Linked DNA regions of Homo sapiens. The protein of the gene in region 2 interacts with the protein of the main gene of each other region in a biochemical or structural test. Each region holds a gene or a part of one and is shown on either strand. Other genes may lie near its edges. The genes, in order: UBE2E3, CUL3, DCUN1D4 and KLHL20.

Region 1 (7,031 bases), about 43 Mb from region 2:
TTGAGTGAAAACCCCTTGTATCTCTGCCCCTGCACAGACACACAACCACCCCTGCTATTATTGTCCCACACTACAGTGGTATAGTTGTTACATTCCAATCGATAAACCTACATTAACACATCATTATCATGCAAAGTCCCTAGTTTTCATATGGGTTCACTCTTGATGTTGTACATTTTATGGATTTTTACACATATATAGTGACATATCCGCCATTCATACCATACAGAAAAGTTCACTCCCTTACAGATCCTCCGTGCTGTGCCTCTTCATCCCTTCCACCCCACTAACCCCTGGCAACCACTGATATTTTTACTGTTTCTGTAGTTTTGCCTCCAGAATGTCATATAGATGGAGTCATACAGTATGTAGCCTTTTCATATTGGGTTCTCCCACTTACTAATATGCATTTAAGTTTCATCCATATCTTTTCATGGCTTGATAGCTCATTTCTTTTTAGCACCGAATAATATTTCGTTGTCTGGAGGTACCACAGTTTATATATCCATTCACCTACTGAAGTAACATCTTGATCACCTTCAAGATTTGGCAGTTATGAATCAAGCTGCTATTCACATCTGCATGCAGAATTTTGTGTGGACATAAGTTTTCAGTTCATTTGAGTAAATACCCAGGAGTGTGATTACTGGATCTTATGGTAAGATATGTTTATGTTTGTAACAAGATTGCCAAACTGTCTTCCAAAGTGGACATCCAGATGCATAAAAATGAATCTAGATATTTTGCATTTCCTGTACCATTTTGTATTCTCCACTAGCAATGGATGAGAGTTCCTGTTACTCCACATTTTCTTCAGCATTTGTTGTTGGTGTTTTGGATTTGGGCCATTCTAATAGGTGTGTAGTGGCATGCTTTTCTTGTTTTAACTTGAAATTCCCTAATGACATGAGTTTGAACAGTTTTTCATACGCTTACTTGCCATCTGTTTATCTTTGGTGTGAGGTATCTGTTCAGGTATTTCACCCATTTTATAATCAGGTTGTTCATTTTCTTTAGTTTTAATGGTTCATCGTATATTTTTGATAACAGTTCTTTATCAGGTACATCTTTTGCAAATATTTTCTCCAAGACTGTTGCCTGCCTTGTTCTCTTGACATTGTCTTGCAGAGCAAAAAAAATCTAGGCTGCAGTTACAGATTTGGAAGTTAAGAGCATATTGGTGGTATTGGGAGCCGTAAAACTGCATAAGATAACCAAAACAGTATATGTAGGTAGAAAAGAGAAGAGTGTAAGGTCTTAGCTCTGGAGGACTGGTGATATTTAAAGCTTAGGGTGATAAGGAATAGGAATAGAGAGTGAGAACGAGGGGCCAGGAAATGTAGGAAAGCTAACAAAGTATGTTATTCTAGGAATGAAAGAGAAAGTGTATCAAGGAGGATGTGATTGGCTGTGTCAAATGTTGCTGGACCAGTCAAATAATATGAAGATTGAGAAATGATCATTGGGTGTAGTGATGAGGTCATTGGTGACTTTGGATAAGAGCTGTTTCAGTGGAGTAATGGGAGGAAATGCCTGTTGGGAATGAGTTCAAGTAACAACAGAGGAGAGAAACTGAAGATAGCAGATGTAGATAAGATTTCCAAGGAGTTTTGCTGTCAAGGAAAGATGATTGAGATGGAAACTCGAAGGGAGAGAGAAATAGAGATTTTAAAAAATAATAATAAAGTTGGGAGAAAGGGCATTGTTGGATTCTTATTGGCATCACTCACCAGAGAAGGAAAAATGGATGATGATTCAAGACAGTGGAAGAGACAGAGAGTGTCGGTCAGTTGCTAGCCTCTAATATGATTTGTTTAAATTACAGTGGACTCAGCCCTGCAACTGCTCATGTCCCTTCCTGACCCCTTCCCATCTTGCCGTATGTTTTGACTAACAGATGGTACATTTATGAGAATGAAAAGAGGCCCCTAATCCAGACAGGTAGCCAACACTACCTGGATTTTAGGACTGGATTTTAGCCTTCACTTGTCCTAAACTAGGTGTCTTTGGGTACAGCAAAGTAATCATACTACCATAGCTTCTCTGCTTAGTCTACTCCAAGACAATAGGAAAAGTTATTTACTATCCTGCAATAGTTAAATGTACACTTTGTCCTATAGTTAAATGTACACTTTGTCCGATGGCAAATAGCATGATAAGTGGGAAGAGAGCACATTTAAGAACTAAGAATTTGGTGTGGGAATCCAAGCTCTTCTATCAACTGGCAGTAAAATATATTTGAGGAGAGTTTAAGGCGTATGAGTCGTCTTACCAACAAGTAATTATGAGTTTAGATTTTATTTGAACTATCTCTCTTGTTTGTATTTTATAAAGTAATGGTGTGTTAAGCGCAGTGCACCAAAATGTAACTAAGACTTAGTAGCACCTAGGACTCAGATCTTGGTTTTTCTTACAACATTCGCACTGAAAGGAACCCTGGCTCTTTGGAAAAATGTTTGATTCCAAGGATGGGATTCCTTATGCCAAAGGAAGGAAATGCTTAAAAAAAAAAAAAAAAAAGATGCTAACATGTTGCAAGGATATAGGAGTCATTTTGAAAGGGTTCCCCATCAGCCAAATCTGCAATAATTTGGGTATCAAAATAATTAAAGTCAGTAATGACTTATAAAGCATTGGGAAAAAATGAGACCATACCAGTAATACTTCTGTACATACGTACAGGCAGGAGAAGAGGCTCAAGGGGTAACTGTTAAGTGTAGAGAAAGTTCTAGAATTGGAAAATCATGATTTTATTGCTGTAACAGAATACCTGAGACTGAGTAGGTTATAAGGAAAAGAGGTTTATTTGGTTCACCTGATGGGCATCTGCATCTGTTGAGGGCCTCAGGCTGCTTCAACTCACAGTGGAAAGGCAGGCATCAAGTGCAAAGAGATCACAAAGCAAGAGGAAGCAAGAGAGAGAAACCAAGGAAAGCCACTCTTTTTAACAATGAGTTCTCTTGGGAACTAATTCATTCTTGCTAGAGTGAGGACTCACCCCTGAGGGAGGGCATTAATTTATTCATGAGGGATCTACCCCTCTGACCCAGACACTTCCCAACATTGCCGCGTTTGGGGGTCAGATTTCAACTTGAGTTTTAGCAGGGACAGATCAAACCATAGCAATCACAAATGGATGCTAAATCTTGGGAAGAAATTTTGATAAGAAGCAGGATATTTGCCTGGTCTTGAAGTGTCTGTCCAAATATTGCTTATTGGTTGCAGGGAAAAGATAGTAACTAAGCAGTAGGAAAATTGGATAGCAGTTTGTCTGGATGATGAAACTTAACATCACCAATGAGGTACAGGTAGGTGCTGTGTGCCTCCAAATGTGATACCATGAGAAGGACACATACTATTTCAGCCAGACACCTACTATTTCAGCCAGAAATGCGTTACATGAATCAAATCATGAGGAAACATGGCAAGCTCAAAATGATGAGCATTTTTTAAAAAAGAAGACTAGATTCTGCAAAAAACGTTAATGTTATAAAAGTTAAAGAAAGGCGGAAAGGACCCATATTAAAGGAGAATAAAGACACAGGAAATAACGTGGTTCCAAGACTGGGTCCTGCATCGGAGAAAAATTAATTTTTTAAAAGGGTATTACCGAATCAGTTGACAACATTATAATACAAATTGTACTTTAAAGAATTGTATTAATGTATTTACTGAAATTGTAACTGTATTGTAATTTATAGGAGATTGTTTTTAGGAAATGCACACTGACATGTTTATGGGGAAAAGGCCGTGTGCAACTTTCAGGTGACTCAGAAAAAAGTATGTCTCTATGCATGCTTGCAGGTTTAGAGGGGTGTGTGTTTCGGGAGAGAGAGGAGCAAATGGGGCAGAGCAGAATGCTAATGGAGACTGGGTAAAGTTATACCAATTTTCTTTGTACTTTTCTTGCATTTCCTCTGTAAGTTTGTAATATTTCCAAGTAAGTTCATACACACATGCACATGCAAACACATTGGGGCTTATTTCTTTTATACTTATTTTACTTCTTATTGCTCTAGATTGCTAATTTACCTTTAACACTTCCCTGGTTTTAGGATATTAACATTCATTGCTAATATATGTACATACTGATTTTTAATTTCTTTTAAATAGTGCTGGGCCTAAAGGAGATAACATTTATGAATGGAGATCAACTATACTTGGTCCACCGGGTTCTGTATATGAAGGTGGTGTGTTTTTTCTGGATATCACATTTTCATCAGATTATCCATTTAAGCCACCAAAGGTAAGAAGCTTGAAGTGCATTCTTTAGTATTTAATCCTTCTCCTCTAAAATCGGTTATTCTAGAACTTAAATGTGTATTGATGCAGTTATTTTGATTTCATTGCTTTTCATGGATTGATATGGAAATTTTCGCATAATCAAGAATTTTAAAACAGTAATTGACTCCTTTCACAAATAATTTGTAATAAACAGAAAGAGTTTAATTCTTAATTGTAAATAAAACTATACCTTGCACATCAATAAAGCAGATAAATTTTATGCTTATGAGGGAGAAGATCCTATGAACCTTCATTAATACCTTAATTAATAATACCTTAATTAACTATTAAGGTATTAATGAAGGTATTAGGATAAAAAGTAAAACTGTTTGACAGCTTCCAGAAATAAGGGTTTAATAATGTGAATTTTGTGCTGAATACCTTTATAGATAAGCAAAAACTTCATAGCCAAGAAGAGGGAAACTAATAATATTTAGTAAACTCATTTTGTACCTTCTGTGGGTATGATGTAGTAGTGGAAGCAGAATGCCTGAGTTTTGTTGGCTCTGAGTTCATTTGAAGTATGAATTAGATGGATAACAGAGAACGGGGTGAGTTGTGCCTTCTAATGACCATCAACTTTGCAAAGCTTAAATATAACAATTACTTGAATGGCTCCCTCCGCTAACTTCTGTTTCTACAATGGTCAAGTCAGCAGGTAAAAACCACTGGAATTAAGCATGAGCATTATTATGCTGTTGTTACAGAGATGTCTGACATAGCAGGGGAAAGTGTATTTTCAAGTCCATAGCCCTTAACTATGGTGAAATGTTTTTCTTTTCCAACATGGTGACTTTTGTTCTCTGTACTTTTAAAAATTTATGTTGCAGTCTATACCATTTAAAATTTATGTAGCCTGTGTGTATATGTATATGTGCACATAAACGGATTTATTTTGTGAATAAAAGAGGGTTATTTCTCAGTAACTTATTGTCTAACAAGGTAACGAGTGCCATCTAGTGGTATTTACCCCAAACCGCAGACACCATTTACTCTCAATTACAGCTGTTAGTGTTTAAAGTGCTTTACCGTGTGGTCCCATCAGCATGTAAGATCTTGAAATTATTTTTGCATATGGGGAAGATTAATTGAAGAAAAAGACTCTTAAGTTTTCCTGGACACCTTTTAATGAAAAACAGAAATTGGCTAATATAAGAATTTCACACTATATAGTACTGTATATGATTTGCCGTAATTTTGATGAATATAATGATTATAAATTTAGCATGTTGGTTTTTTGCTGAAATTGCAATATATCATCTAATTCTTTAGTGTTCACTCTGTTGCTGAGATATACAGTATTAACCATTAAGATCTATAGTTGGACAAATGAAAAATAAGATTTCTGGTATAATCTTGGTATTTGGAACAATTATTTCTCTGCAATGCTAAATCTTTTTGAAGTTTGGAAAAGTTGAGCTTCTTGAAGGATAATAAATATTTAATAGAAATCTGCTCATGAATGCTATTCTGTTCACTAGTTATAGCTGAAAATATATTTGTAAATCACATATGTATTGAGCAGTAACGTCAGTGATCTGAACATAAATTATTTCTATATTCTAGAGCAGCATTAATGGAAATATAGTAAAATCTACATGTATAATTTTAAATTTTCTAATAGCCACATAAAACATAAAACAATTTTAATACTATATTAGTTAACCCAACATATTAAAAATATTGTCATTTCAACATGTAATCCGTGTAAGAGTATTGTTAATGAAATCTTACACATTTTCTTTTTGGTACTAACTCTTTGAAATCTGGTATTTATTTTACACTTCTAGTTCGTCTCAATTCACCTTGCCACAATTTAAGAGCTGTATATGCACATGTAACTAGTATATGCTGTATTGGTCAGAGCAGTTCTAGAGGGGCATACTCTCCTCCTCCCCCACTAAACTAGTGTGTTGGTCCCCTACCCCCTCCCTGTCATGCATTCTTTTCAGGAAGACACTTTTGAGAGCATTTAATGTTTTCCTCCCAGATTCAACTTTTGCGCTCACAGTACACTGCTAGTTTTCAAATGATCAGAAATTTTTTTTTTTCTCGGCAACTCCAATTATGAATTAGCTATCCAATTAGTGTTTGTGATTGTTTTGAGACTTGGCAGTGTTTGTTCTTATGATTTATCTTCTTTTCTCACACATTTCAGGGATATATTAGTTTCCTTTATCCAGTAGCTAAAAACCTTGTTTATTTTATTTTAATATTTTAGCCTAACAAGACAGTGAACCAGCTGTAGAAATAAAAGGCTAAGAAACAGAAAGGCAGGTAGTGTGAATGATTTTACCAACCGTCTTCTAAATCCTCCAGTATTTTCTAACGTTTGGTAAGAAATTAGCTGAATTGATACTGATCTTTTCTAGTAAGAAACTGATGTAACTTTTATGTTTTAAAAAAAAATCTTCATCAGTTCCTCTTACCTTCGGCACCAAAACATTTCTTTTCTTCCTCACTTTCTGTCTTTCTGTATGTATGTGTACACACACAGTTGTATATGCTGTGGATGTGTATGCAAACAGACGTACCCACACACATAGATGGAATTACTGTATCAGTTATTTAAGTATAACTGATCAGTTCCTCACTTTAGTTCTTTCTATACAGGGTAAAAACAAAAAATTTTTTTCAACTGAGTCAAAAGCATTTAATTTTGTTATTAAACCTAATCTAAGTTTAGCTCCAGTCAAATAATTTAGTATCATCTATGATATATTACCCTTCATTTTTTTTTAGTGTTT
Region 2 (7,031 bases):
TGGGCAGACCACCTGAGGTTGGGAGTTTGAGACCAGCCTGACCAACTTGGTGAAACCCCATCTCTACTAAAAATACAAAATTAGCTGGGCATGGTGGTGGATGCCTGTAATCCCAGCTACTCAGGAGGCTGAGGCAGGAGAATCACTTGAACCCAGGAGGCGGAGGTTGCAGTGAGCCAAGATGACGCCACTGCACTCCAGCTGGGGCAACAATAGCGAAACTCCGTCTCAAAAAAAAAAAAAAAACTGAACAACTACACAGCTGTAGTTGGTAAACAGTCATTTTTATGACTGAGAGTTAGGCATGCTGAAGATAAAGAACTAGAAAACTTTCTAGTAGAGAGTGTTGTTTGCTCTCATCTGGTTCTGAAGGTTATATGTCAAACAATAATTGGATGCCAAGAATATTAAGGCATAGATAGAGTAGATCTCATCTCAGAAAATGGTTGGTGTAGCTCAATTTCAAGCCTTTGTGATATATGATATCTCTGGAACCTGAGGAGCTCACGACAGCATAGAAAATCAACTGAAGCATAAAACATGCTCACATCTGAATTGGTCTCTTTTGACTTCATTTTGGAATTTGTGACACCAAAGGGAAAAGCAACATGTCGTCACAGGTTTTACAGGCAGTAGCTGCAATAAGGGAACAAAATCACTAAGGTTGCACAGAATAGAAAAGTCTATTAATTTATGCATTCATTTGGTCTTCCGTTTTTCAAATATATTAATACAACCTGCCACAGAATCCTTTTGCCCTTATTTAAAAGTAAGGGCAGCCAGGCACAGTGGCTCACGCTTGTAATCCCAGCACTTTGGGAGGCAAAGGCGGCGGATCACCTGAGGTTGGGAGTTCAAGACCAGCCTGACCAATATGGAGGAAACCCATCTCTACTAAAAATACAAAATTAGCCGGGTGTGGTGGTGCATGTCTAATCCCAGCTACTCGGGAGGCTGAGGCAGGAGAATTGCTTGAACCCGGGAAGCAGAGGTTGCGGTGAGCCGAGATGGCGCCATTGCGCTCCAGCCTGGGCAACGAGTGAAACTCCGTCTCAAAAGAAAAAAAAAATAGAAATAAAAAAATAAAGTAAGGGCAATGGCCTTTTTACTGTTTGGATTATAACAAATTATTGCCTTTTGTTTGCACAGTTGAGGCTTTCAGTGAGCTTAAATGAAAAATTCCGTCTTTTGGCTGTGTAAGTTTTTGCCTGCATATGCAAAGGCTTCATAAAATAATCTCTGTGACTAAAATTTCATTTCATCTGTTCTCAATCATCCCTTAACCCAGCGCTATATTACCTTATGCCTCCAATTCAGTGGTAGCCCTCTACGGAATAGAATTCCACTCCAACCCCTCATTCATGATGCACTAAATGAGAATGTAAGAATGATGCTACTGTGTGAAGTAGGAGACACTTTCTCAAACCGTATCCCTTTTTTTGATGTATGTCAACCAGATATCTATGTTTTCAAACAATAGTGTTTTTAAGCTGTAAATGAACCGTAGTACTGCTTTTGTAGAACTAAAATTGTATAATTGTTACATCATCTTAATTTTGCAGCTAACAGAACAAGAAGTAGAAACAATATTGGATAAAGCAATGGTCCTTTTTAGGTTTATGCAAGAAAAAGATGTATTTGAACGTTATTATAAACAACACTTGGCAAGGAGACTTCTCACAAATAAAAGTGTTTCTGATGACTCTGAAAAAAACATGATATCTAAGTTAAAGGTAAGGTGTGTTTTAGATGAAATAGAGTGCACCTAACTGAGGTTTATTATGATTGTGTACTGACAACGTGATTGGAAATTAATTTGGTAGATTATTAAGTGTTTATTTCTAGAAATAAAGGTAGATTGTTTTGGAGAAGAACACAGACTACACTAACATTTGTTCAAGTTCAGGGACATTCAGAGTTTGCTGGAATTTCTGTTGGTGTGTCAGGATACATTCATGGAGGCCTGGAAGGGAGGATTAGTAAAAGGGAAACAATAAAGAGGCTATGCTGTGTAGTTCTTTTTCACAAAGTGTGGTCCATAGAATACTTGCACGTGAATCACCTGAGATGCTAGTTAAAAACAGTTCTGGGCCCTGCCTTTCATGGGGGTATATTGGAATCTCTGAAAGAATCTGGGAATTTGCATTTTAAAATCCTAAAGTTTGATAACCACAGGCACAGAGCAACTGTTGGAAAAATTTACAGGAAGATTATCAGGGATAGCAATAACATGAAATAATTTATTTCTTTCTGTACTTTCTCATAGAAACATCTACCATTTATTTGTGTATATTTGTGTTTTTCCTCCACAGACTGAATGTGGATGTCAGTTCACGTCAAAACTGGAAGGAATGTTTAGGGATATGAGCATCTCAAACACAACGATGGATGAATTCAGGCAACATCTACAGGCAACTGGTGTAAGATTCTGCGTTAATTTCTACTTAGATATTCATGTAAAGTCTTTTGTAATGGGTATATTTTCATCCACTTAGCAGATGACAGTTGTTTCTTTAAATGTCATTAGTGACAACATGTGTTTTATCTGTGAGTACTTAATTTTCCTTCACATTGCCTCTTATTCTGTGTTTATGTTAAAACTTTTTATTCTTTTAAAATTTAGTTGTTTCTTCCCACTTGAAGGAATACACTGACAATTTAATAAAGAGAATTATTCTGTTGTTAATAAAGATAATACAAATCTATTATAAATTGTGGAAAGAGTACTGGGCTTAACACAAGTTTACTGAGTTTCAGTACTCTTCTTTTCACTTTACCCCAAGATTGTGTCATCTTGGGATAGTCACCTGACCTTCCTATACCTCACTACTATTATTCTCCTCTGTAAGTTTAGCTTAAATGGGACTTACATCCTAAGGGTGCGTAGCAGGTGAAGTGAGACTATAAAAACACAGAAATTAATGTATTATAAATGTGTTTGGTATAACTCCCCAAAGGTGGTGAGCTGGAACTTCTTTAGCTTTGGAGTCTGATGGGAGTTTTATGAGCATTTAATGAAATTCAGAATTTAGTTTCATTTTTTACTCTGATTTTCAACTTAACCTTAAGTTTAGAGAATTGTACAGTTTTTAAATTTTTAAAATCACCGTGTACCACTCTATGGTTAAAATGTGTCACAACCATTTAACAGATTTGTGAGTCTTTTCCTTTGGTATCTAAATATGAGATCATCACTTCTACTGGCCTTATAGTCTCGCAAACCAGATACGTGAAAATACGTAATTCTGTAGAATAACCATTCATTTCTATGAAAACATTCTGACTCTAATGTAAATAGTTGTATGATTTGCTTTATAAATATCAGTGTTTACAGTGGAGAAGAGCTGAGAGGAGGAAAGATGCAAGTCCATGACAGAAATTTCGGGTGGACAGGAAATAGTGGTGTAATTATCCTGGATTTTTATTTTTAGATTGTTTAGGAATTTATAGTTAAATCTAATATATTGATATATTTTCTTGTATTTTTTTGTTTGCTCTAGTAAGTTTTTAAATTTTTTTCTTCCACTAATCTTACACATTGAAAGCTATAGGGAAGATTGGGCTAGATCCCATGCATATTGATATGGGATGGATGGACTGTCCACTTTGTGACCCTCCCTTCCCCTAACCAACTTGCGAATGTATAAACAGTTCTCCACCTCCCCCAGTACACCATCTAAGAGTCTCCTCTATGATCCTCTCTTCTGTGCATCATCCAAGTTTATTTTCAGTTTCCTTAAAGTTAAGTAATCATTTAGTGGATACTTGTGAAGAAATCGGAGTGTAGAATGCTTCTTGATATTCATAAACTGATTCCTCCCCTTAAAAATTTACATTACTAAATCATTGAGGTAAGATAAAAATGGAATGATGGTTTATAACACATCCTGAATATCAATAATAGAAATAATATTTAATCTTTAAGAGTTTTTGTTGTGCCTTATTGTTGTTTACTTAAAAATTTAATTTGTTTAAAGGAAGAAAATAATTGTGACAGTTGATACTAGCATAGAAGTAGTTATTCATTGTACAGATATTTGTAGAGCACCTGCTCTGTAGCACTGGATCTATAGTGTTATAGCACTGGATCTGTATGCAGAGGTTGTTAGAATGTGAGCTACATGCTAAAACGTAAAAGTTTTAATTAACTGTAGTTGAAATAGGTGCTGGAATATTAGAAATATGTATTAAGATAGTAAAAATATTTTAAAACTGAGACGAAGGATATTATGCTAGAATTTTCTCTAAAATGATATAATTGACCCTCCTTGACCTTTTATTTAAAAAGGCCCAAACTTTTCAGTTCTCAGTGATAACAGTAAGACTTGATTTATGTGCCAAAAACTATTCTTTGGTCAGTGTTTTTAAATTAACATAATAAGCAATAATTAAGCTATTTGCCATGTAGTTAAAATTTGGGAAACACTGGGTGGGTCTAACCTTTAAGGAAATCTGTTTTTTTGCCGGGTGCGATGTCTCACGCCTATAGTCCCAGCACTTTGGGAGGCTGAGACGGGCAGATCATCTGAGGTCAGGAGTTCGAGACCAGCCTGACCAACATGGAGAAACCCCGTCTCTACTAAAAATACAAAATCAGCCAGGCGTGGTGGGCATGCCTGTAATCCCAGCTACTCGGGAAGCTGAGGCAGGAGAATCGTTTGAACCTGGGAGGCGGAGGTTGCAGTGAGCCGAGATCGTGCCATTGCATTCCGGCCTGGGCAACGAGCGAAACTCTGTCTCAAAAAAAAAAAAAAAAAGAAAAGAAAATCTGCTTTTTTTTAAATTAGATATTAGACATGGAGCTAACTGCTTTGGTAAATCTAACACAATGTCTAAACAGAACAGAAAGCAAATCCTAGTTAATTTTGAGGGGAATATCTCTTTCTGTTTTACATAGGTATCTTTAGGTGGTGTTGATCTTACAGTCCGGGTGCTCACGACAGGATATTGGCCCACTCAGTCAGCCACACCAAAGTGCAACATCCCACCAGCACCAAGACATGCTTTTGAGATATTCAGAAGGTAAATCAAAATCAGACTTTGTATCACTGTGTACAAGTAAGTGTTCAAAATTAAAAATGAATTTGAACATTAGTATCCGTAATTGAGGATGAATGTATTCCATTTATTACCTCGTGATCAAAAGGAGCATTTATCCTGGCATACAGCAATTTCCCCCTCTATAGGATCTTGATGAGTAAAGTAAAGCAGGCATAATTTATCTCTAGAAAGATTGTTTATATGCTGGCATTTGAAATGCCTTTTATTTAGAGCAGCAGTAAAAATGGAAAAAGAGAAAGTAAATGATGATGGAAAACTAGACCCAGAGAATTCCTTGGACTTTTCTGAACACTTCAGCTAACTCCAATTGTTGGAAATACGTGGATACCTTATTCCCACTAGTACTCAGAGTCTCTGAGATGGCAGTTTTGATGAGGAAGAGGAGCAAGATGAAAAAAAAACAAGAGTGATATGCAAGAAAAAAACAGAGAAAGATCCAAGCAAATATTTTTTTTGGGCTGCTGAAAATAATTGGCTTATCCAGTGTGGAGACTGCTTTGTGAAAAGACCACTCGTGTGAACACTAGGGATGAAGATGAGTGTATCACCCCCTTCATCGAGCAGCCTAAGGTGGACACTTAGACATTGTCTGTGAGCTGATTGCACAAGGGGCAGAAGTTTTTGCAGTGACCGTAGATAGCTGGACACCCCTGCAGGGTGCTTATAAGTGGAATAATACCAGAGTGGCTTCTTTATTTCTTCAGCATGGTGTAGATTAGTTATCAGTGACCAAACAAAAGGTCTCTTGACCCACTTGCATCTTGCTGCTGGGATCAGAGACAGCAGAGCTACTCTAGAACATCTACTGGTGAACTGTTAACCTCAAACCAGATCTGAAAAAACAACTGGGAAGAAACTGTATTTGATATTGCCAGGAGGACAAGTATCTGTCACGACCTCTTTGAAATTGTGGAAGGCACTGTACAAATTCTTCACCTTAGTCTTAATGATTCTAGTAATTGTCTTAAGTGTCCAAGTACCAGTGCCTTCTTTGTGTGAGATGTAAAATATTCCCATAGTAAAAGGTTGACATCAAACATCTTACTACAAAAAATTCATTGGTACTTATTAAGATGTTCTTCCAGGTGAATTGCCTGACCTTGATGTCAAAATGTATTTGAAAGTTGTTTGAATATATCTTGAATGATTTCTGTGGAGTTTGTGATTTGTATCAGAAATAATTTCGACTTGCCTACACTTAAAAACTTGACGTGGGTTGTACAGAAACTAAAGATATTTTTGGTGCTGATCCAGGAGATACGTATTTTTAAATAGCCCATATCCTGGATCTTTGTTGAGTATTCAGCATATTGACATGTATCTTTGTAAGGTGAAGTAACTAAGAATTTAACTTAAAAAGCCTCGAACATTCTGGTGCTATTCCTGCTGTCTTCTCTACATTACCATAGCCAGTTGCTTTCATTTTGAACCAGAAGCACTAGCATATTATTGACTTGTAGCTTCATAAATTAAAAAAATAAAAACTAGATTTTGTCTTTTAGAACATAGGCCATTTTCCAGGAAAGCAGCTAGGTTTTAATCCATTAATCTTGTATACTGTCTCCACCACCACAATTCACATAATCCTGTAGACAGTCCTGCTTCACCCTGGTCAACTGCATGATCCTTATTGTAATAGTGAATCAGTATAACACTTTAGACATGCACACAGATAACACGCTGTTGCAAGAGTTCATGATATGTCTGCTGTCCAACTAGTTTTATTTGCCTGATCCTACTGGTTTAGGCACTGCCTATAGTCTCGAGTTCACAGAAATGTTGGGTTTTTTCCCTCCCCAAAGTCCTCATTTTTTATAAACTGTAGAAAGGCAAAATGACAAGGGAAAAGGAATTCTAAGAGTGAAGGGATGATTGTTATATTGGGGCAAGAACCACAGAGTGGCTCAGGCTTTGGAAAAAATATGGTGTGGATAGTGACAAAAAACATAAATATAAAAATTCAAGAAAAA
Region 3 (7,031 bases), on a different chromosome or scaffold from region 2:
ATGTGGAGTTCGAAACACAATAGAAAAAGAGAAAGGGTTGTAGACTTAGGTACTAAAGAAAACCCAGATGAAGGCACCCTAATTTATTCAACATTAGCCAGTAAATAAGTGCTTGATGATTGTTCAGTTTTGTGCAACTTAGAGAAGTTTTTAAGAAAATGTATCATATTACTCTGTCTGACCCCTTTTTCTCCCCTTAGAAATAAATATATAAAATCAAGACAATCAAGGGTAAGCACTCTGCCGCTCAGCAGTCAAAGAGGTTTATTTTTCAAGGCAGTTTAAAGATTATTTGGAGTTTTCTTAATATGCAAGATTATCCCTTTGGAATACTTACTTTCTTATCATACATAATGCAATAGTTTTTACGCAGTTTTTTCCCTACCATCAAAATGTTGATTGTGGATTAACTGTAACATCTCCCTCCTGTAACAATCCTCTCATTTTAGAATTAACTGTGCTTATCAGCATTTTTTAAAAATCTCTATATTCTAACATAGTGTTTAAAATAACTTCATCTATGATTTATATTTGCTTTAAATAAAGCTACAGTTGATCAGATTTAAAGAACTGTATGACCTGTTGCCTTTAAAGTGTAACTTTTTAACTTTATGGAATAATTTTGAAAATGAATCAATTCTTCACAGATCCAAACCTGCCTAGGCCAGTCACCACTGCAAAACAAATGCATCCATCACATCAGTATTAATAGCTGTTGCTTGCCATTAACATTTCCTGTTCTTTTCAGATATTGGTTTATGCAAACTGGTATTAATTTTTAAGGTTGAAAGTGAATCTACAAATAAGGAGTGGTTAAGTATGCTTAATCACTACAGGGTTTTTTAAACTTCTGGTTTATTTCACAGCAAATAAAACCTTTCGTTTGGTAGAAAAAGAAAGTAGTTGCATTCTACTATATCATGATTTTGTATACACACACACTGTATATACATACAAAATTTCTTTCTTTGGTGGTTTAGTTAGGGAAAAAATATGAAAATGTGAACACTGTTTGCAAAGAAATGGTAAAATAGTGGTCAAGAGTAGCACTGTCTGTGTGCTTTATTCACTTAATGCCATTTAAACGATCACATGTCACCCGAAAGAAGTTTTAGCCAGAGTTCCAAATAACCCAAACCTTTTTCCAGTCATCACATGTTCAAATCACGGATCTTGCTGACCACGACAGCATTTACTTGTTCAAATGCACCATTACCTTTTACTCACTCAAATCATTAGACTTTTGTGTTTTCACAGAACTTTAGGGACTGAATTAGTCATTCAATAGCACCAGATAGTTGGGGTGAAAACATGTCATCTCTATATTTCCTCAAGAATGGCAAAAAAAAAAAAAAAAAAAGACATAAAATACAAACCTAAAAATACCATTCTGTTTATTCTTGTTTCCTCATCCACAAAAATAATGGCTATTGCCCTTCTGTACAAATAACTCAGGTAATGAAAAGTGGCCCCTCTAGGACAGGTCCTAGCATGTACTGGGTTAGCTCAATGCTGGTGGTTTCTTGTCCACTGCCTGCAATGGACATGCTGCCAGGAAAAGCCTAGCATGAAACAAACAAACAAGGAAAACAAAACAGCTCTCACTTATAGTATGCTTGTTTTCTCAAAAGGCTGGAAAATTACATACCATGAAAGCTTAACTGAAAATTCAAGCCACAACTAGAAGTGCGATGCAGTTATAAACAGCCAGCAAAACCATGAGGTTTTCATTGAGGAGGTGAAATAAATTTTACTTAGAGTGGCAAAGAAAGCATTAGCAGATCAATCACTGGCTAGAAGAATGCAAAAGGAAAAAAAGAGAACAAACAAACAAAAAAGTTAAAGAATGTTTATAAGAGTTTAAATCCCATTCTTTTAAGAAAAGAGGTGCAATTTGAATTTGTTCATTGGTACCTATATTCAAGCTATTATAGTTTTAACACTAAAAAATAAACAACTTATACACCTTGCATGGTAGAAATGATTTGTGGCATGTTACATATCTATATGTTCAAATAATTATAACTCATCATTTTAAAACACTAATATTGTTAAGTATACCAAATGATATTTGGCATATGCCTCTAAAAAGTTATGACTCCTACCTCCTTCCAGAAGTTGGCCTCTTAAACAGTAAGGTTAATTCTGGCAATGTTTGTTCATGGTAACAGTTTTCTCTTGTTTTCTGAAATGCTACATAGGAGACCAAATAAAGTATAATTGGTTCATTCAAAAAAAGGGACTAGAAATGCCACAAAATTATTTTTACAATACATTTTTCAGAAATAATCTCTAGGTGAACCTTTTTCCTTTTATACACATATACAAAATTTAAACAGCAATATACACATAATCACAGTGAGGACGTTGGCAAATTCACCAATCTGTAGTGTAAATACAAACTGCAAAGCAGCCTTCCAAGAGAACAATGCCACACAGCAAGCAGAGCTGGCCAATTCAATAGCAAACACCAACATGTCCCTGCGAAAGGGAAACAGTGCAAGAGAAGCAGCATGCGCTTTGATACAAACAGCAATTTATGGCTAATGGGTGACAAAACTGTGGTAACAGTGACTCTCTCGCTGCTATGCATAAAGTCCTAGGACATCTGTTTGTCTTTATACCACTCCACAAACTCGTCCAACAAAACTGGCCCTGGAGAGAAAGAGAGAAACAGTAGTAATAATAATAATAATAACAATAATAATAATAGTAATGTAGCTGAGGCTTTTCCCAATGAGGATGATATAGAAATGTACACGAATGGCAGAATGGTAGCGGCAGTACTTACATGCTCCATCTTCATCATAGTTGCTGAGGTCAAGATTAATTGTTCTGCTAAACTCTAGGACATTGCACCACTGGTCTTTATTAATAACTTTGTATTTTGATTGCTGATGGAGGGAAAAGTAATATGAATTACTGACACTTAAAATGAACAAATGGGACGGTTTCAATTGCTTTATGAATCAACTTAATTAAGTTCATGTAAGGTTAACTCTTTCTGTTTGAGGTTTGTTAAGCACCAATCTAGGAGGATGGTGAGGGAGAGCAAGAGTAGAATTTAAGATGACAATTGTCATTACAAAAATATGACAGGGTCTCAATACAAAATGGAAAGCACATCAAAATAACATGATTATATATCCCCAGAAGTGAAAATTCTAAACTGCAAAAGCCATTTTATATAAAATGCAGATAATATCTACTTCATAAAGATATTATAAGAATTAAAAGAGATCATTTACTAATTTATGTGAAGCACTTCATTCAGTGTTTGGCACAAAGTAAGTGCTAAATAAAGAGTAGCTCCCATTAATATAACCCCTGACATAACCAGCACTGCCCATGGCCAAGCCTTCGGCTTAAAGCACATGCAGCAGCAGGTTACTTGACGAGATCCGGTAAGTGCTGCAAGTGGTCTCAAAATTAGGTGTTCTTGTCACAGAAAAAAATTACTGTTCTAATAATTCAAAACTCGAATCTGATCATAAAAGAAGCTAGAATAGCTGTGAAATCGTTTTTCTATTCCTCTTAGACGAGAAATTTGCCATGTGTCTATTTAAAAATACAGTATCCCTGTATGAAGATTCATAAATAAAATCCAGAACCAATGATTTTTAAATCTTCCCCACTAAAATCAGAAACATAGTAAAACAATACAAGTACATAAAAAGCAAAGAGAGTTGAGTCAATGGTTTTGAGGATGCAAACACAAGAAAAGCTGAAATGAGAGGAATACTGTCTTTTTTAAAGAAAAATGCAAACTAATGTAAGAGAGAGAACAAAGCACAGACTACAAGTTTAACTTTCTAAGCAGGTAAAAGCAAAAACCAGTCCTGAAACAGTTGATGATGCACCTGGAATTACACAAAGTCAGATTTCCTCCAGGCCAGGTCTTCCAGCTTAAGACTCTTTACACACAGGTGTAAATCCAGCTAAACTCTCTGAGAACAGGGAACTATTTCTATTTATTTTTCCAAATAATGCTAACTCATCTCAAGGGATTGTCAGAGAAATTAGAACAGACCATATGTCAACATGGACTATTTTGGGTAAACAGATACTTACGTAAAACTAGTTTTTAAATTTTTGAGGAGTCCCACTTAGTAATGTTAAAAGAAATTTTTAATAACAGTTCTCAAAGAATCCTATCAGATATTAAAAATATTCTGGACCATTACATAAAGTAAGTTGTGAGAAAGATTATTCAAGAGTGAAGCCAGAGTCATCTTACGGCCCAGCATTTTCTCAAAGACCCAACACCCTCATCCTTGCAAGCAAAGGACACTTTTTAGAAGGGCTTGGGGCAGGAGGGAAAGGAGGATGCCATATATGACAACCCAAGTAACTCAAACTTGTATCCCATATACTTCCAGGTCCCACAGAATGACACTTCAACAAAACCAGTAGCTCAGAATTTCTGATCATCAATACTTAAAAGCACACAAACAATGATGGAATAAAGTGCTGGATTGTTCTGATACTGATCTGAAGACAATTTAAACTGAAGGAGATATTGTCAGTCTGCCTAATACTTAGATTGATCTAAGGTCCTCAAGTTACTTGGTGACAAGAGTAGATAAGAACATACTACAAACTAATTTTGGTAAGAAGGCAGATGACTGTCTTTTAAACCTCTGCTTAATAAAAGTGGAAGTTCATCTAAAGTCAAAAGAAAGTAAATCTTCTTTTTCTATTGTTACAAAGAACAGAAAATCTAAACAAAAGTGAAGCTTTAAAATGGGGATGAGAAAAGAGAGAAAAGGACAGAGCTGTGGCTGTTTCGGATGCATTTTTAATGTGGAATGAAGCAACACAACATTAAACGCATACACAGATGCACTCCAAGAAGATAGGTAGCTGCTGACTGACAGCAATTATGTCACCGTAATTCCTACATAGGCAGAAAAGTACAACAAACAAAAAATTACATACAACGGGTGAATAAAGTTATTTGGTAGTTCCAAGCAAGCAAACATACATTTCATAAAACAACAATTTGGTACCTCTAAGAATTGGTGAAAAACTGGAAAAAGGGGCCAGATTTTTCCTAATAACAGTCCCAACATGCACTTGGCAGTGTTTATGTCTAGGCTGCGCTGGTCCTTTTCCTGTTTAACAAACAAAAACAAGGATGAGCCAGATGCCCCCAAATAATAAATTCCAATAATTGCAAATGTGTATTCACTTCAACAGGAAATTAGTAAACAGCTCATTTATCATACACCTTAAAGACCCTGCATCCAGACTAAGGTTAGGGAGGGGAGGTAGTCAAACACAATGGAAGGCTTGGGCATTACGATATTATATAAATTTACTGTGAGAAAGATTTATGTCAACTGAATGATCACCCTAATGCAAAATCAATTAGTTATGTCGTAGCAGTTTCTACAGGCTTTTCATGGGATTAATAAAAACTTGTAACTCAATCACTTGCTTGTTTGATATTTATGATAATTATCAAAATCCTAATTGTTGACCATAAAGCCTATAACTCAACGGAGCTTAAAGGTTTTGATGCCTATGATTAGGAATCAGGTTTCCTTAATAAAAACGAAATCAATTTGATTTCATTGATAAATATTTTTCTTGAACCTAAACATGCTGGAATTGACTTCAGCTCATACCAAATGCTGGGGCTCTGAAGTGTCTCTCTAAATCAGAGGATAGATTCATCTACCCACTCTGGTGGAAGGCAGGAAGTCTATCAATACAGTCCTTCAATAGACAGATAGATAGATAGATTTCTTAGACGTAAATTTCCTAGTAAAATACTCCTAACTAGTAACCAAGTGAAAGACAACATTTCATAAGGACACCAGAAAAAAAGATAAGAACATAAACCTAAATAAGGGCAGGGTAAGCTCATTCCACTTACATTTGCAATTAAGGATCCTAATTTCTCATTTCCGTCTTTCTTATATGCTTCCATTCCAGAACTACAAGCGGTCAGTTTCCATGGAAAGGAATAGAGGGCCTGGGACCATAAGCATACCTTACATATCCAAAGCTAGCCTCCATGTGTTATCTTAACTACAGTGGAAATTTGTAAAAGTAGTTTTTTACAAAGGGAGAAAGTGCCTGGCTAGCCCAGTGCAGTGGAATCTAAATGTTCAAATTAAGGGATGATGCTGTGACCACCACCCTAAGCCACATATGCAGCCATATATACCTCCTGATAAAATAAATCATCACTGCAAGGACGCTTAACAGTGAGGTACTCTTTAGTATACAAACCATTTCTAGCCATGACCCTGAATTGGGACTTAATACAGCAAATGTAAGGGCCTCACTTAACAACAACAATCAAGGTAGATGAAGACAAGGAAACTTGTTGCCTAAGGAAGATGTGCAATAGATCTGGCCTTTTGGTCTCAGTTGTGAAGTGTAACGACTGTCCATGAATAGACCAGGTCAGATGGCTCCACATCACCCTTCTTTCAGAGGTCACATAACTTAAGTCTGATGAGGGCAGGTGTATCCCAGTTCCACAGTTCTATGCAAACAGGTGGGACCTCCTTTCCACAGGGTTCTCTGCCTGTCCCTTGGCCATATGTATTGTCCTGCTCAGGGCTGCAGTACGCACTCCCAATGGAGAAGAGGACAGGAGAAGAGGTGATCTAGAGACTGCCTGCCTTTTGCCAGACAAACTGCATTGGTTTGTTGTGTTTCAAGGGCTTACACTTCTGTGATGACACTGTGCAAGCAAATGGAAAACTTCCTCTTACCCTGTAACACAGGTGTGGCAGACGGCAACAGCACACCATACTATGAAGCAATCCACAAGATAAACGAGTAAACTGTTGAGAAACACACGCGGCACCACAGGACTCGGCCAAAGTCCATTTGTTGAACAACAGCTTATGCAGCACTGGGCTGACAACACTGGCGCTCTGGAAGAGTTTTCCCTTTGCAGAGTTTGTAATCATTCACTAAACCCCAAATCTCTAGTCTTGCTGTGATATATATTGTGCCTTCTTCCACCATCATCAATACCTATGTCCCCGTCACAATGGACATACACTAAG
Region 4 (6,243 bases), on a different chromosome or scaffold from region 2:
ATGATGTACTACAGTGAGGATCTCATAAAAGTTTTTATACTTTTTACATGTTAATACCAGACTTAATTAAAATACTTAAGGTCTTTTATTATATTTAGTTTCAGGTAAACCTATAGTGGCAGTGTGGCATAGAAAGAGGAATGGACTGGGAATTGAGGAAGCTGATTTCTAATGTTGGTTCTATCATTAATTGACTATTTATTCTTAGGCAGACTTTGTGGTTTTCAGACTTGGATCAGTGTAATAAGTGGGTTTGGACTAGATGATTGTTAAAGAGTCCTTCCAGCTCAAAATTGTATGAGTCTAAGTCCTACCTAGAAAATAAGTTTATAGGTTAGGTAATATAACATATAAAAATATATAATGAAAATTCCTATTAATTCTAGCTGGCAATCCTTTTATTCAAGTTGAAAGCACTTGTAACTTTACATACAGATAAAATAAATTATATAGAAACAGAAATTCCAAATTAAATAACAAAAGTACAAGGATAAAAAGCATTAGCTAAAATTTTTTTAATGGTAAATACTACCTTTATTTAAAAAAGTTATACATGCTAGAAAAAAGCATAAATGATATATGTAAACAATTGTTTACTCAATACTTTTTTTCCTTGAAAAAGGTGCAAATGATCTTTAAATGTAAACACAAAGTTGCCAAACATTTTTGTAGTTGGGGAAAGGGAGAAGGAGGTTATTCCTTTTAAATGCAGTTAGTCTTATTCAAAGATTTTTCTTGCAAAATATATTGAAAAAAATTTGTCTATGAATACAATGAGGAAAAAAAACTTTAACCATTGAAATTATTTTTTCCTTAAAAATTTTTAACTTTTTACCAGAAAGTGCAATTTGAGAGAAGTAGTAACAATGACCTTATAGAATGAAGATAATGATACATTGTTTGTATAAAAGAACCAAGATATTAATAAAATGCCTCAATTGATTTTACACTCTTTAATGTGTGCTATTACATTAACTGAATAATTCATTCCCTTGGAGGCTGTTATTAAAGGTAAGCCTCAGCTTAACCAGGCCTGAGCATCAAGAATAAATTGCATAACAGAATTCACTGCTGGGAGAAGACATTTCTCCCTGCTGGTCCTTGGTAGCAATAAGGAAACAGGAAGGACAGTTGCTTTAGTCAGTAACATTTTTGAGCAAAAACTGTTGCAGAGCTGCATGTGATTCTCTTGGATTCTCAAGACAGCATATGAGACTTATATATTGTTTTTATAAGAGGCACTGAGCAGAGCTCTAGATCTAGCAGAAACTCTATGAGAATATTATGAAAAAAAGACTAAATAAACAAGTTCATATAGAAAGAAACAAGACATAAAATTACACTGATGAAAACTGTAGTGTCTGAGTCCTGGTTTTTATTGATTTAGTATCCCTTCTGAATTGTACTATTTAAAATGAGATGTTGCCTTTTCTTGTTTTTTTGTTTTTTTTTTTTAAGATTTTCAAGTCTTCTGGTGGTTAGTGCGAGAATAATGGGTAGCTAATACATTTTGCATACCTACCTTTATTCCTGGTAATCCTTGTTAGTGGAATCATGTGGATGGAGTGTCTAGAAATAATAGCCAAATCATATATAGCCCTTCTGCCCTTATTAAATAGTATTTTCAAACCTAAATGAATACCTTACAAACAAAGTAAGTTTTGCTGCTTGGAATTTTTTCTTCTTTTCTTTTTTTGTGGGAGGAAGGATAAGTTCAAAACGAAAACAACAAAAAACCATGATAAATTAAAACCAAAAATAAATATTCTTCTGCACAGAGTTGAAAATTATTGTGCATCTTGCAGGTGAAGTACTTTCATTGGATTGTATTTCCATTTGTTGAGGCACCGGCAAATAATAAAATTTGTTCTAATGTTTTCTCAAGCTGTACAAAGCTCCAAGGTCAAAGCTCCCCAGAATACAGAGGAATATATACAAGACTGTCTTCTCTGTGTTCACCAAATATGGGATTCACAATGTGTCATTTTAATAACTCCTACGCCACCCCCTAGCCGACGGTAATTCATCCCGCCATATAACCTGCAAAGAAAGAAACATAATCATATTTTCTAACTGGAAAATATGTTACAACTAAGATGTTATTAACTACGACTAAGATGTTATTAACACGTTTCTATGTTTTATATTACAACTAATATTTTCAGCTTCACACTAATATTGTCTTCATTCTAAAGATTAGAAGCTGCAATTGAGCACTGTTGAGTAGCAGGACTGTTTCAGAGATTGACTGACATGCTCTCACTCATAGGAGGCTGTGTGAAGAATAAGAGAGCATCATATTCACGTTTGGCATCAGAACTTTACAACTGTATACCTCACTGACTTCTAACGGTTACACAGAATTATATATTCTACATTTTCAAAATTTTGCCCCTGGCTATATTATTGTCCCACCTATGTTTTCCCTTTGCCTAAAATTCTTCAATTATTTATTTTTATCCCTTTGTCTTATATGTACTCTGTAAGCCTCTTCAAGTCCTTTATAGAACAAAACCAGATTTGAGTAAAGTCAGCATCTAGTTTGTGACAAGATCATCTTCAAAATTAAGGACTTTCCATGGAGAAGAATACTAGACCCTTATCAGCTATGAGGTAGAGTTGGTTTTTAAGTCTTGGATATGTAACTGCAAATATTTAGTTATTAATCTTTCAACAGATGATCCTCAATAATTTCATGACTATTACTTTGTCATCTATTACTAATTCTATTTAGTGACAGTTACTAAGAAACAAGTCCTCAGATAAGATTATAGTGATTAAGTGACAGTAAATTTGGCTGTCTTCAGAAATTATGCTTAATCAAAATTCCTAGTAAAAATAGAAAGCTGTATATGGAAGAAAATATCCTGCCAGTGAGAGGCCCAAAGCTGCCATTACCTATCCTTTACCGTATTTAGGTTTTGCTAAAATGCTACCTTTCCAATGAGGCCTTCCCTGAACACCTTTAAAAACAGATTCCCCTCCCTGTACTCCCTAGCCCCCTCCCCTGCTTTGATATTTGCCACAGCACTTCCATCTACTGGTATGGTACTGTTTGTCTCCCTCAATACAATTGGTTAGCTCCAGCAGGGCAAGGAACTTTTTTGTTGTTTTGTTTTGTTTTGAGACGGAGTCTTGCTCTTCCACTCAGGCTAGAGTGCAGTGGTGTGATCTCGGCTCACTGCAACCTCCACCTTCTGGGTTCAAGAGATTCTCATGCCTCAGCCTCCCTAGTAGCTGGGATTACAGGCGTGCGCTTGGCAGGAATTTTTGTTGTTGTTGTTCAGTTTTGTATCCCCAGGGCTCGGAGCACTTAGTAAATCTTTTTTTTTTTTTGAGACGGAGTCTTGCTCTGTCACCCAGGCTGCAGTGCAATGGCCCAATCTCTGCTCACTGCAACCTCTGACCCCAGGTTCAAGTGATTCTCCTGCCTCAGCCTCCCAAGTAGCTGGGATTACAGGTGCCCACCCCAATGCCTGGCTAGTTTTTGTATTTTTAGTAGAGACGAGGTTTCATCATGTTGGCCAGGCTGGTCTCGAACTCCTGACCTCAGGTGATCCGCCCACCTTGGTCTCCCAAAGTGCTGAGATTACAGGCATGAGCCACCGTGCCTGGCCATCAATAAATCTTTACTTAATGAACAGGACTGTAAAAATGTGATGTAGGAGCAAAACGTACACGCTGTTATTAGCCTGACTTTAGTTTTGTGACCACTGAGTCATATGGAGCTGTGAGACATATGTAGGATCCAAAGCATGTCACTTAAATCTCTGTGAGAGTTGTGGCTTTCCTAGAGATAGACTATTAGAATACAGTAAGAAAGGACTACAAGACTGCCTCTTTTAGAATAGTAACAATAAAACAGAGCTCAGCTTATCCTTCATGGTCATAAGAAAAATTTCCCAGAATGTCTGCTGCCTCAGCTCACATGTCCAGCCTGATATTTCTGGTTGATGTGCAACCTTAACCACTGAGATGGTAACCCTAAACTTGCTTAGGCAAGTAAGCCCATTTTATTGAGAAGGAAACCCCAAATTGCTTGGAAGGCAAAACTGTTTTCTTAGAAGACTAGTATTTAGAATTAAGTACAGATATGCCATACATCAAACCCATAGTATTGTTATTTTTAAAGTTTGAGAATAAACTATGTGTTTTGCATTTTAAGTTCCTGTAGTGTTTAAGAGAATTTGGCTTTTTAGGGCATCTATAAGATTACTCTTGTGATTCAAGTATAAAATATGATTGAGTAAAGATTTAGACTTAATTATTTTAAGTTTAAAGGTTTAAGAGAATTTTGCTAAGTTTGTAAAGGTTCTTGAATATTTAAAATAAATGCAAAAGTCACCTAATTTATGTGAAATTATAAAAACTACTTAACTACTTAAGAAAGCTTTATTAGACAATTGAGGATTTAAAAGCAAAGTAAAATTAAACCTAGAAATGAAGTTTAAGTTAAGCTCTCTTAAATAAGATGTAGCCTCCTCCCTAAAAGTTAAAATGGCTTTAAAAATGAAATATTATTTTTCAAATATTAATTTTTCAAAAGTAATTGCAATTTGTTTCTCCTAGGCATAGGTTTCCCACAAGAACACCAAAAAATGGCATGGACAGATTTGGAGCCAAAGACCTAGGTTCTAATTCTAACTCTGTCACTAACTCACTTAGGCAGGTCATTTTATTTCTCGGTGCTTTTGTTTCCTCAGCTGAACATGATGGGACTAGGAAGATTTTTTTTCCCTATTTTACCCATCTCTAATTATAAAACTGGACAGTTACTGAAAAGGAGAATTTTGTAATATATCAGCCACTTTAGAGCAATCAAGTCAAAATGAGCCATAAATATGTGTAACTTCAGCCCTCTTCAAAGTACTCCAATGTACTGACCATCCCAGTTCTGATGGTCATAGGCTATTTCAAGCCCATGATTTCCAAATCAGTAGTGAGGTGATTTGCTACACAGCTTAAAAGTTACCTCCATGTATTGGCATCAGGATCAAAAACTTCTATGGTCTTCAAGTATGTTGTGCCATCAAAACCTCCTACTGCCATGAGCTGTCCATTGACCACTGCCAGGCCAACCTACAAAACCAAAATACAGTAAGCTGCTGAAGAAACTAGACAATCGTAAGGAAATTATAGACTGGTTTCTAGATAAATCTATTTACAAAAGATAATTCTTTATGGCCTTACATTCTGGTTTACTGAAACACAGGGAAAATGTAACAACAAAAGTCTATCAAATTATGGGAACTATAAAATTATATATTCAATTAGAATATTCACACAGAATCCAAAACATGTATTTCTTAAATTTTAGAAAAACTGTTCACTAGAAGTGAGCAAACAACCTCCAAACTGCTCTCACTTCCTCTGGTATTTGCCTGCTCTAATCTTTCTAATTGCTAGTAAAATTCTCTTTTAAAAATACAAATCTAGGCCAGGCATGGTACCTCATGCCTGTAATCCCAGCACTTTGGGAAGGCCCAGGTGGGAGCATCACTTGAAGCCTGGAGTTCAAGACCAGCTTGGGCAACACAGTGAGACCCCTATCTCTACAAAAATAAAGTAAAACAGAAAAATATAAATCTAATCATATTGTCACTTTCCTCTAAAAACTTTCTCACTTTGGGAGGCTGAGGTCGGTGGATCGCTTGAGCCCAGGAGTTCGAGACAGGCCTGGGCAACACAGTGAGACCCTGTCTTTACAAAAAATACAAAAATTAGCTGGGTGTGGTGGGGCATACCTGTAGTCCCGGCTACTTGGAAGGCTGAGGCAGGAGGACTGCTTGAGCCTGAAAGGTCGAGGTTGCAGTGAGCTGAGATTGTGTACACTGCACTCCAGCCTGGGCAGCAGAGTGGGACCCTCTCAAAAAAATCTCCTAAAACCAAAACAACTTTCTAAGCCTCCCTACTATTTAAGGGTAAGTTTTAAAGTCCTTATTATGTTACTCAGGCCCTCCAGAAATCTATCTTAGCCCACTATTTAAGCCTCACCTCTTATAGTTTCCCTTTACTCCTAACTAATGAATCCTATTGCTGCAGTAAAACTGGATTAACTGCTAGTCCCTGAAGATAACATACATTTTTCACACCTCCACACTTTTGCACATGTTCCCTGGCTGGTGTTTTCTTCTCCCCTCCCCTCCCCCACCTCCCTCCCTCCTCCCTCCTCTCTCTCTCTCCCTCTCCCTCTTTCCCTCTCTCTCTCTCACTCACAGGGTCTCGCTCTGTCACTCAGGCTGC

Evidence for each region.
Region 1: the proteins of CUL3 (region 2) and UBE2E3 form a complex in vitro, tested with the Homo sapiens proteins (one study listed by BioGRID).
Region 3: the proteins of CUL3 (region 2) and DCUN1D4 form a complex in vitro, tested with the Homo sapiens proteins (2 studies listed by BioGRID, with this or other methods).
Region 4: the proteins of CUL3 (region 2) and KLHL20 form a complex in vitro, tested with the Homo sapiens proteins (2 studies listed by BioGRID and IntAct).

Annotation. Positions count from the first base shown.
Region 1 is NC_000002.12:181,053,580-181,060,610, forward strand, and holds part of UBE2E3 (ubiquitin-conjugating enzyme E2 E3), read left to right. Parts: intron 1-4,113; coding exon 4,114-4,246; intron 4,247-7,031. UniProt on the Homo sapiens protein: Accepts ubiquitin from the E1 complex and catalyzes its covalent attachment to other proteins. In vitro catalyzes 'Lys-11'- and 'Lys-48'-, as well as 'Lys-63'-linked polyubiquitination.
Region 2 is NC_000002.12:224,498,354-224,505,384, reverse strand, and holds part of CUL3 (cullin-3), read left to right. Parts: intron 1-1,562; coding exon 1,563-1,733; intron 1,734-2,312; coding exon 2,313-2,420; intron 2,421-4,897; coding exon 4,898-5,022; intron 5,023-5,167; exon of another isoform or gene 5,168-6,205; intron 6,206-7,031. UniProt on the Homo sapiens protein: Core component of multiple cullin-RING-based BCR (BTB-CUL3-RBX1) E3 ubiquitin-protein ligase complexes which mediate the ubiquitination and subsequent proteasomal degradation of target proteins.
Region 3 is NC_000004.12:51,909,153-51,916,183, reverse strand, and holds part of DCUN1D4 (DCN1-like protein 4), read right to left. Parts: intron 7,027-7,031; exon of another isoform or gene 6,732-7,026; intron 5,115-6,731; coding exon 5,010-5,114; intron 2,895-5,009; coding exon 2,792-2,894; intron 2,656-2,791; coding exon 2,600-2,655; 3' UTR 1-2,599. UniProt on the Homo sapiens protein: Contributes to the neddylation of all cullins by transferring NEDD8 from N-terminally acetylated NEDD8-conjugating E2s enzyme to different cullin C-terminal domain-RBX complexes which are necessary for the activation of cullin-RING E3 ubiquitin ligases (CRLs).
Region 4 is NC_000001.11:173,780,960-173,787,202, reverse strand, and holds the end of KLHL20 (kelch-like protein 20), read right to left. Parts: intron 5,080-6,243; coding exon 4,973-5,079; intron 2,041-4,972; coding exon 1,956-2,040; 3' UTR 511-1,955; downstream 1-510. UniProt on the Homo sapiens protein: Substrate-specific adapter of a BCR (BTB-CUL3-RBX1) E3 ubiquitin-protein ligase complex involved in interferon response and anterograde Golgi to endosome transport.